2 separate regions of the Homo sapiens genome follow, and region 2 is linked to region 1. Evidence: fine-mapped expression QTL. Tissue or cell type: lung. Region 1 holds a variant in brackets; the other region holds the start of a gene. All regions are shown on one strand. Distances are between the middles of the regions.

Region 1 (5,596 bases):
ATGATTATTTTTCTGCTTTTTTATCATTCTATAAACAAATAGAAATAAGAACATTTTTGAAAGACTAAAGTGATATAAATTTCATTTCCCATATGTCATGTTATCCTGCAAGTCCCACCTACCTAATCAACAATGTTCATCATTTCAGGTGGAAAGAGAAGTGTTGCTCAGTTTACATGTTCAAACCAGAATTCTAGCCCGCAGAAACAGAAAAGACGTGAAAGCTAACTTGGTTTGTTTTTTAAGGAGAATAACGGGGATTTCTAATATCCCTTCATATATTGTAGATCATAAATCAAGAGAGTCAAGTCTGGCCAACTTGATCAGAATCTTACAAAAAGCCACGGAGTAGACAACAAAAAAGATATGGCATTCCCGCTACCTAGAGAGGAAAGGTGGAAAGCCCTTTGGGCACTGGGAAAACAAGCCCAGAGAGGAGAAAGAAAAAGAGAGAGGGAGAGAGCACATGCAGTCATCAAGGACGTCCTCAATTCTACCCCCCCACATCCCAAACTTAGGGAAAGTGCAATAAAAATACCCCAGATAGTTTGAGGCTATGCCAAAAGCAAAGAGGGGACTTGAATTTCACTTTCCACTTGGAATTTTGATAACTGAATAACTTGCAGGATATATAATTCCATTAGTCAATTGGAAAGGACGGCAGAGTTGAACAATACAAAGGGATAGGGGAGGGGTATGGAAAAGGAGAGCTGCTGAGTCACATTAGGTCATCAGCATCAGTAGGAGCCCAGTGGGGGCTCAGTCATCAGGAAGACATGACGGAGAACTTTCCCAAGTTCTCCATGGAAGAGCAACCATCTTTCATTTCCCTTGACTGGAAAACAGGCCACAAGCTACACAACCCATAAAAGCATCAGTGGTAGATGCAGAAAGAATAGCATCAGACACTCAAAGGTGAGGTAGCATGAGTTGCACATCAGCCAGGGGTCAGTGGGAAGCAGCAGAGGAACAGTCCTCTTGGGATGGAACTCCTACTACCACGAGGTGATGCAAGCTTCTTTCTCTGCCCAGAGACCAATCAGGGAAAGAGAAGAAGGAAGGGAGTGTGATCACAGGGGTATGGCAGGGAGAGGAATCCTCTAAGACTTTCCATTCTACCAACAAAAGAAATGTGGGAGTCATCTGAAAGATACCCGCTTAAACTGTAATAGACTATTGCCTGGGATGGGAACTTTTGCTTTTTCCCCTACCCATCAACAACAGGAACAATATTAAGCCAGACACAGAAAAGTTAGAAAGCTATATATCTGAGTTTTGGTTGATCAATTTTAACTCTATGTGTTTTTCCTAAGAACAGCGACCATGTGTTTAGTACTAAGATGTGCCAGGCACTGGGCTTAAGGCCTTGCATTTATACAACAATCTCCTAAGGCAGGTGCTATCATTATCCTTGGATAAAAGAGCAAACTGTGCTTTAGAAAACTTACGTAAATTTGATCAAGATTAGACAGCAAATAAGTGACAGAGCTAAGATTTGAACACAACGCCAGAATCCTCTCACTCTAACCACTATGTAATACTACCTATATGTTATTATTATACTTATTTTTCAGATGCTTAAAGAGTCCAAATGAGTAGCCCAACCAGCGAGTGGCAGAGCTGGGGTTTAAACCAAAGCAGTCTGGCTCAAATATGTCAGCTGCTATTTCTTAAACAATTTAAGTATTTTAACAAATCTATATATTGAAATTGTAAAATCTTACTGTTGCTTTCAAAACTTATGTTTATAAGGAATATACAGACTATAGATTAGGGTAGTAGTAAATGAAAAATGAAAAGCAAAGAGAATATAAAGTAAGTTTGGCAAGGTTTCCTAAGTAGAAACTTTGTGAATGACAAACGCTAGGAAGTGAAGGAGGAGTAGAATTATTAGTAGCTGGATGCTGGGAGCAGTGGGAGGAACCTAACTGTTGTAATCCAATGATGAGAAATTACAACTAACAATTGGCTGAAAAAAAACTCTGTGGATTGATTGTACATTCGCAGATCTCTCAAGGCAACCACACCTCCTATGGGAACAAAGCTTCTTATGAAATGACACACATACAGAGTAGAGAAGTGTTGGAGAAAGTCTTAGTGCACTCAGATTCAAAATACAGTGGTGGAAGGCATGGGATTGACAGATTAGACAAATGTGATAGTAGTTGATGGCATTATGGGGCTAAGGTGGCCATACAAGACCTTAGTAGTTGCAGCTGTATTAACTAAGGCACCTTGCAGCTGCTTTCAAACAGGGATGAATAACTGAAGAAACATAATTGACTGTTATGCAGGGAGGAAGGGAGAAAGAGGATATGTAAATGTTGAAAATATAGTTAAAACTAATGAAAAATATGCTCTAAATCCCAAATAAAAAATCATGTTAGCATTGCTTTGTCTGTAAAGAGGAAATTGCCTAGGAATTTTTTCTGAAATTCTTTCATGAGTACTCAGGGTAACACTGAGACTGAACAGATAGTTCTAGTTGCTTAACTCAGTTTGTTAAACTGCAGTTTTGACAAGGCCAGTGTCTTGAATGTGGATCCCAGGTCAGCCAACTGCCTTGTTTTGGAGCTAACAGCTGCATTCCTAACCTCAGCCTCAATGCTGAGGAGCCTATACACTGCTGTGTTTTGTATTTGGATTTACAATAAGCTGTGAACTACTTAAGAGCAGGAAATATATTTTTTTCATCTCTGTATCCTCTCAACCTTGCATAGCTACTGACACGGTACAGGCACTCAATAAATGTGTGCGTGCCAGCCACCACTTGCCCAGGAGCACAAAATGAGAGAGGCTTTAATCCATCTTTCATTCTTCAGTTGAAAGGTGGATTAAAGCCTCTCTCAATTTGTGTATGGCTATTCTTAATGGTACCTGTGCTATGTTCCTTCAATGCCGAGGTAGGAGGAAAAGATGGTTGAATCTTTCGCTACAGTTACTTGCAAGTGTATAGGAAGGGTGGTGTATAAACATAGTGGTGTTGAATATTGCTTATGAGGGGTATTTGTTTTACTGAAGAGTGGAAAGGTGAATGAAAAGTACACAACTGAGATGAAGTCCTCAGTTCCCTTTAGAAGGGAGATAGATTTCAAAAATTTGCCAACAGACAGAATTAAATGCCATCAATGAGCATTTGAAAAGGAAACTGAATTACTACATGGGAGATTTCTACACTGCACCAGTAGATTTACTACTTCCCAAAGGTTTTTAAATTACATGTCTTCTAACTTAACTTTAAAATTCAAGTTTAATTTTATGAATTTCCTTAAATATGATCTGTGTTGTTGTTCTTACCAGGTGTCATTCACCTTTTAGATTTGTATTTCTT[A/G]TTTTTAAAATTTCACTTCCTTTTTCACACACACACACAAAATTAAAAGTATCTGCCCTCTTCACATGTTCTAAGGAAAGCGCTATTGTTGCCATTTTAATTTATCTGAGATAGTGTACTGCTCTTTTTAGGCAACAATGCTCTAAATTAAATTATCGTATGTGTTTTAAAACCTTACCAAAATCTGAGATGAGTTCCTTCTCTGTGCTAGGCTTACTTTGAAACCTGTTAAGAAACGAGATAGAAATTTCAGGACAGCAAGACACAAAAGACCAATCAAAGCTCTCTGATCATTCTCCTCAGGCAACACTAAGTATTATTCAAATATTACATCACAGTTTTAAGCCTTCTGTCAAAAGTGGGAAACCTTCACCCCACTGCCCCACACTAAGCTAGGAACTGACCTGGTCCTGAGGGTTAAACACCCAAGTTTTGTGGACACAACAGCACAAGGGTTCTGCCTCCTTTTATTTATCCCCTGGGATAGAAATGACGGGACCTCGACAAATCCAATCATAACTCTGGTATCTTGTTTGAGGCAGGTCCCTCTCCATCCCCTAGTTGAAACATTAAAACAGCAAGCAAGTATAATCTCTAGAGATTTCTCAAAGGAATCTAGCAAATACTGCCTTCCCTTGTTGTAATATAATTTATTTTCCTGAAAAGGAGCATACTGTTCTGAAGTAACTTAAAATTAAAAAGTCACAAATTAATTATCCTATTTTTTGTTACGGTAATTGCAGAAGGATAGGAATAGTGGGCTTCAGGCCCATAAAGGTATTTAATAAGGGTCTCCCACAACAATACAGTGAATACTTTAACCAACGGTCGCTGTATTAATTAGGATACTTTCAGTTGCTAATGACAAAAGCTTAAGTCAATTAGCTTAGGTAAGAAAGGTCATTATCACGTAACTGGTAAATAAGGGATTCAACATAACAGCTAGAATCACCTCTCACACAGTGTCATCAGAGCTCATTGCTCTCCATTTTTCAACTTTGCTTCTGGTTGTGCACCAGCTTCCTTCTTCAGAAAAGCTCTCACATGCAGCAGGAAAGGTGGCTGCTCATGGACCAGATTAACGTCTTTTTAGCTTAGCAAACACAATAGGAAAGAAAGAATTTTCTCCCCAACATTCATTTATCTATCCTAGAAAGAAATCTGTATGGGCCATGTGGCCACCCCTGAGCCAATCACTTGGCCAAGGGATTATAGTTTTCCTTCCATCTTCCTAGCTGTTCCTTTTTAGTATCTACTGCTGGCTCTTCTTCCTCTTCCTTGACCAAAACAGTCTGACATTGCTCTGGCTTCCTTCTGGGTCTTCTTTCCTTCTCCATCTAGAGGCTTTCTTTGGGCAGTGGTATGGTTTGGATGTGTGTCCCCCTCCAAATTTCATGTTGAAATGTGATCCCCAGTGTTGGAGATGAGGCCTAGTGGGAAATGTTTGGGTCATGGGGTTGGACTCCTCACAAATGGCTTGGTGTGCTCCCCACAGTAATGAGTGAGTTATCTATTAGTTCACAGGACAGCTGGTTATTTTAAAAAGCCTGATGTCTCTCTTGCTCCTTCTCTCTCCATGTGACACATCTGCTCCCTCTTCACCTTCCACCATGATTATAAGCTTCCTGACCCCCTCGTCAGAAGCGGATGTCCTCCTATGCTTCTTGTACAGCCTGCAGAACTGTGAGCCAAATAAACCTCTTTTCTTTATAAATTACTCAGGCTTGGGTATTCCTTTATAGCTATGCAAAATGAACTAACACCGTGGGGTCTCATCCATTGCCCTCCAATTGCCATCTCTCAGCTGTCCACTCTCAAATCTACATGCAAACTCCAGCCCTGTCTCCTAAGCTTCAAACTGCTGGATCTAACTGCCTACTAAACATCTCTGCATGGCTGACTCGGTGTCCAAAATATTAACTCCTCCTTCCTATACCTCAATTCCAACTGCTGTTCCTCCCAGTGTTCACCATCTCAGGAAATGACATCACCACCCAGCCCATTACTCAAGTCTGAAACCTGGGAGTCATCCTTGATTCCTTCTTCTCCCTCAGCAACTCCTTTCACATTTAAACAATCACAAGATCCTATTCCACTCCTAAATATTTCTCAAATGCTTAGTGACATAGATGTCCCTTCTCTATATGCCCACTAGTCCAAGCTACCCTTATTCTTTGCCTAACTACTACAGTAGCTCCCTAAATCCCTTACAACCATTCTTGCCCCATCCTTCCATCAATCGAATCAAATCCAATTATACCAATC
Region 2 (5,596 bases), 110 kb before region 1:
AGCCTCAAAACACTGGTCCCTGCATCCCAGCTGCTCCAGCTCCAGCCATGGCTCAAAGAGGCCCAGGTACAGCTCAAGCCATTGCTTTAGAGAGTGCAAGCCATAAGCCTTGGTGGCTTCCACAGGCTATTAAGCCTGCAGGTGCACAGAGTGCAAGAGTTGAGGCTTGAGAGACTCTACTTAGATTTCAGAGGATGTATGGAAAAGCCTATATGTCCAGGCAGAAGTCTGCTGCAGGAGTGGAACCCTCTAGATAACCTCTACTAGGGCAGTGTGGAGGGACAATGTGGGGCTGGAGCCCCCACACAGAGTCCCCACTGGGGCACTGCCTAGTGGAGCTGTGAGAAAAGGGCCACCATCCTCCAGACCCCAGAATGGTAGATACACTGGCAGCTTGCACTCTGCACCTGGAAAAACCAAAGGCACTCAACACAAAGCCACAGGGGCAGAGCTGCCCAGGTCCTTGGGAGCCCACCCCTTGCGTTAGTGTGCCCTGGATGTGAGACATGGGGTCAAAGGAGATTATTTTGGAGCTCTGAAGTTTAGTGACTGCTCTTCTGAGTTTTGAACTTGCATGAAGCCTGTAGCTGCTTTCTTTCTGCCAATTTTTCCCTTTTAGAATGTAAAAGGGAATTTTTTTACATTTACCCAATGCCTATAGTCCCATTGTATCTTGGAAGTAACTAACTTGATTTTGATTTTACAGGCTCATAGGTGGAAGGGACTTACCTTGTCTCAAATGAGACTTTGGACTTCAGACTTTTGAGTTAATGCTGAAATTCACTAAGACTTTGAGGGACTGTTGGGAAGGCATGATTGTATTTTGAAATGTGAGAACAATGATTGTATTTTGAAATGTGAGTGTAGATTAATATATATTCCAAAACAATTGTTATTTATTTTGTGGCTCAAATTGTTGCAACTTTGGTCATCAGGAGCTCTTTCAGGTTAGCTTCTGGGCCATTTTGACATGTACCTCCATTTTTTAAAAGGCATTTCCTAGCACCCCGAGATGCTCCAGGCTCATTTCATATCCCCTGACAAAGTGATGGAATCAACCAGCCACTTCTCCAAGAAATTCTGGCTCCCTTTACTGGAGAATTAAGAAACCAAGGTCTAGGCACTAGGTGTCATTGCTTCTAGGGCTTCTCTATGGACAGAGCTTGAAAATATACATCTGTGTGCATGAACCCATGTATGCATAAAAATGCATATTTATCCATCAAAAAACTGAGTGCATACTGATTATTCTAATTCCAACTGAATATCACAAGGTTAATTTTAATATACCCATTACATTTTCTTGTTTATAGTTTCTTTCTCCGAAAATATTTTCTATCTGATTCTTTACAGAAAAAGTTTGTCCACCCCTGGTTAATATCATTCAGATTTCAGATCACTGTTCATATATTTGAATTTAAGAATATATTGACAGTTTGCTATGTTCCACTTCTTTTTTTCCTCCTTTTCCTTCTATTGGGCTAATCAAACATTTTTTATTATTTCATTTAATCTTCATTGTTGATTTATTATGTATACCACTTTTTAAAAGAAATATTTAGTGGTTATACCAGGGTTACAATATTTTTCTTAATTAATCAGAGTCTATCCTTCAAGTAATATTATCCCAATTCACACATGGTATAAAGACTTCAAGATAGTTTTTCCAACTTCCTAGTTTTCATTCTTTGTGCTTATGTTGTTATACATATACACTATAAACACACAGTGTTAGAGATCAAAATGAAAGGAATCTTGGATTCAGCCCTGTTTCAAAGCTCATCAGATGACCTGCACAAATCATTCAAACTTTCTTTTGTACTCTTGGTTCTTTAAGTCAAGCATATCTATTGTGCCTACCTCATAAACAGACTCCAGGTTAACATTAGATTTCAAAATCTATGTGACCAAACCAAATTAAAATCTATAAATCTATATGTCTCAGAGTAGACTGTGAACTTGGGTGGTTGCTGGCATCAGTCCTCTAAGGAACAGCCAAACCAAACCCACTGCAAATACTTTTTTCTTATTATAGGCTCCTCAGTGAAAAATTTAACAATCCTACACCCAGTTTTATAATGTTAAAACAGCTTTTCCAAAGGTCATCAAGTAAAGACATAAAGAAGTATTGTTAAGGTGAATTTGGTAGAACAGGATCAAAGATGTTGGAAGAATTTCAAGATCTGAAACAAGTAGACCAGTTGTGAAACTGGTCTTGATTCCATCTTTTTAAAAACATAAGACTGGAAAGATTGATGGGCATGCTTAAATAAGATGGAAAGATGATGGGCATGCCCTCCTGTGTAGGGCAGCAGTAATCAACCCATGGACGGAGCCACAGGGCCAGCAGCTACTGCTTCCTGTGGGCACTGGTGCAGCTGTCTGGGTGCCTGCTCTTTCCAGCACTGTTTTCATCAGATCAAGAATACAAATCCCAGATGGATTCAAACCCATGACTACAAGCTGTCACTCTGTTAGTCTCAGATGCAATTAATATTATTGTCTTCCCTATGTTATATTTGAAGTTCTTTTAGTTCAATTCAGCAAATTGTATTGAAACCTACTATGTATGAGATAATACGCACTTGAATCCTGCCAACTGGGTCTTGATGATAACGCTAGATGGAAACTAGAAAGTTTGACTTTCTGTTGATGATTACTCTCAATCATTCAAACTTGTGGCTCTTTTTCTCATCAGTTATTTATTGTAACTATAATATTTATCAAATTGTATTAACTAAATACAATTATTTATCAAACACTCTTTTTCTCATCAGTTATTTATTGTAACTAGAATTAGACTTATAAAACTTCAGGAATTTGAAATCATATAACCTACTATGCAGAGCACTTCATTTCTCCTTCCTACCTCTGCTTGAGCTAATAACTACAGTTTGTGATCCAGGCCCCTCCTTAAGGTGGAGCTGACGTGGCTGACACTTCTGTCTTAGCTGAAACAAGCAGAAGGTTGTGAATCCATGCTAAAGGTAAACAAACTGCAACTTATATCTGCAATTTATTTTGGTATAGACAAGAGGTATGCCAGTAGCACACTGGTGGCTTCAGAAGAAATTCTCAACACCTAGCTCGCCAGAGAGTCTATGTATGGGATTGAACAATCTGTAAACTAAAGGTATGAAAAAATTTGTAAAATTGGGAAGGTGAGGGAAAGGTGTGACATTTATTTTTGGGTGCAGAAACATCTAATGCCCATGTATAAACTAGGGATCTGGGGTGAAAGGTGCTTCTAGGGGAGGGTAAATTTTGAGGGATGGAAAGTTTTAGAAAGGCAGCATTCAAGCAATCTGATGTTAAAGTTTAAAGTTCCAAGTTAAAAGAGAACTTGGAATTCCGGTGCAAAGAGAAATGTTAAGATGAATCATGGAAAAATACTGATAAAGCCTGAAATTTTTTTAAGTAAGAAATGTTTTAAAATAATTCTTTTCAAGCTTGAGGGGGTGCTAGAAAGCCTGCTAAAACAGAAAAGGAGGACATATTAATAGATTGGCATTAATGAAACAGAAAAACTAATTTGCATTCAACAGGCACTGTAATGATGTGGTTCTCAGTGTTAATATTTGCTGGAGTATTTTGTGTCTGCCCTTGAGTTTAAGGGAATAGAACAGGGAACCTGATAGGTGACAAATAGTCTGGAGACTTCATCTAGACACGAGCAAGCTTGCATCCTTCAGGCCCTTAAGCTGCTCGATTTCTTAAAGATCACAGTGGGCTCCATGAATTATCTGTTCTGTAGAATGTACAAGCAGATAGCTAAAAGAGAGCACCTGGGAGATACCAAGTACAGCTTGCGGGGGTGAAGGTTTATTTCTGGGAGTTATTTATCTGAGGCTAAAAAGTAATCATGAGCCAAAAAAATTTCAAATGTTTCCCATGTTTGTTTGCTTTTCTGTTTTGTTGTATGTTTTTGTGCTTGTTTTTGTATTGTCTCTTGTAGGATCCTAATCATGAAAATAAGTATGATAAATTATAAGTCACTATTGGCACTGTTGTTTATATTAGCCTCCTGGATCATTTTTACAGTTTTCCAGAACTCCACAAAGGTAGGAAATGCTTTATTTATGTGGTTTACAGAAGCTTATTTTTGCTTATTACCTCATCTGTTCTAGGAAAGGCTAAACTACAAGACTTGTAGATTATAGGAGGGGAGTTTGAATAGCTAGATACCAAACAACATACCTGATAATCATTAAGCAATATGTGAGAGGATAAATACTGTGTGTGTGTTCACACATACACATTCTTTCTTTGTCACAAATAAATGCATTGCACCTATCTTCTTCAATGCTTAGCTCATCTTTTTACTTTCTTTAAGGGAACATCTGAAGAACAGAATATCTATATTTTTGGTTTTCATTTGTTTGTTTTTAATTTTTAATTTTTGTGGGTACAAAGTAGGTGTATGTATTTATGGGGTAGATGAGATATTTTGATACAAGCATATAATACATAGTAATCATATCAGGGTAAATGGGGTATTCATTGCCTCAAGAATTTATCCTTTCTTGTGCTACAAACAAGACAATTATACTCTTTTAGCTATTTTTAAATGTAAAATAAATTATTGGTGATTGTAGTTACCCTGTTATACTATCAAATGCTAGATCTTATTCATTCTGTCTAATCATATTTTTGTACTCATTAACTAACCCCACTTCTCCTCCATGCCCCCACCACCCTTCCCAGCCTCTGGTAGCCATCATTCTACTCTCTAACTCCATGACTTCAATTATTTTAAGTATTAACTTCCACAAATAAAAACGAACATGCAAAGTTTGTCTTCTGTGCCTAGCTTATTTCACTTAACATAATGACCTTCAGTTCCATCCATGTTGTTGCAAATGACAGAATCTTGTTCTTTTTATAACTGAATACTACTCCGTTGTGTATATATACCATATTTTCTTTATGTATTTGTCTGTTGATGGACACTTAGGTTGCTTACAAATCTTGGCTATTGTTATCAGTGCTGCAATAAACATGGGAGTTCAGATAGCTCTTGGATATACTGATTTCCTTTATTTTGGGTATATACCTAGCAGTGGGATTGCTGGATCATATGGTAGCCTATTTTTAGTTTTTTGAGAAACCTCCAAACTGTTCTCTATAGTGGTTGTACTAATTACATTCCCACCAACAGTGTACAAGTGTTCCCTTTTCTCCACATCCTCACTAGCATATGTTACTATCTGTCTTTTGGATAAAAGCCATTTTAACAGGAGTGAGATTATATTACACTGTAGTTTTGATTTGTGTTTCTCTGATGATCAATGATGTTGAGCACCTTTTCATATACTTGTTTGCCATTTGCATATCTTCTAGTAAGTGTCTATTCAGATCTTTTGCCCAATTTTTAATTGGATTGTTAAATATTTTTGCTATAGAGTTGGTTGAGTTCCTTGAATACTCTGGATAGTAATCCCCTGTCAGATGGATAGTTTGCAAACATTTTCTCCCATTCTGTAGGTTAACTCTTCACTCACTTGATTGCTTCCTTTGCTGTGAAGAAGTTTTTAGTTTTATATAATCCCATTTGTCTATCTTTGCTTTTCTTCTCTGTGCATTTGAGGTCTTATCC

The links. PIP is the estimated chance that this variant, and not a neighbour inherited with it, causes the effect. A credible set is the group of variants that fine-mapping cannot tell apart.
Region 2: it holds the start of NXPE4, and the variant in region 1 is the best candidate, but not a certain one, in a credible set for the expression of NXPE4 in lung (TOPMed, PIP 0.75).

Annotation. Positions count from the first base shown.
Region 1 is chr11:114,479,263-114,484,858 of GRCh38, reverse strand. It overlaps a transcript of NXPE2 not described here. Among named protein-coding and RNA genes, the nearest start is that of REXO2, 43 kb to the right of the region's middle. The variant A/G (reference allele first, on the strand shown) is at 3,332.
Region 2 is chr11:114,593,129-114,598,724 of GRCh38, reverse strand. It overlaps NXPE4 (neurexophilin and PC-esterase domain family member 4), which reads left to right and starts at 2,939. Exons shown (of 6, transcript NM_001077639.2): 1 at 2,939-3,133; 2 at 3,956-4,061. The coding sequence starts at 3,966. It also overlaps a transcript of NXPE2 not described here.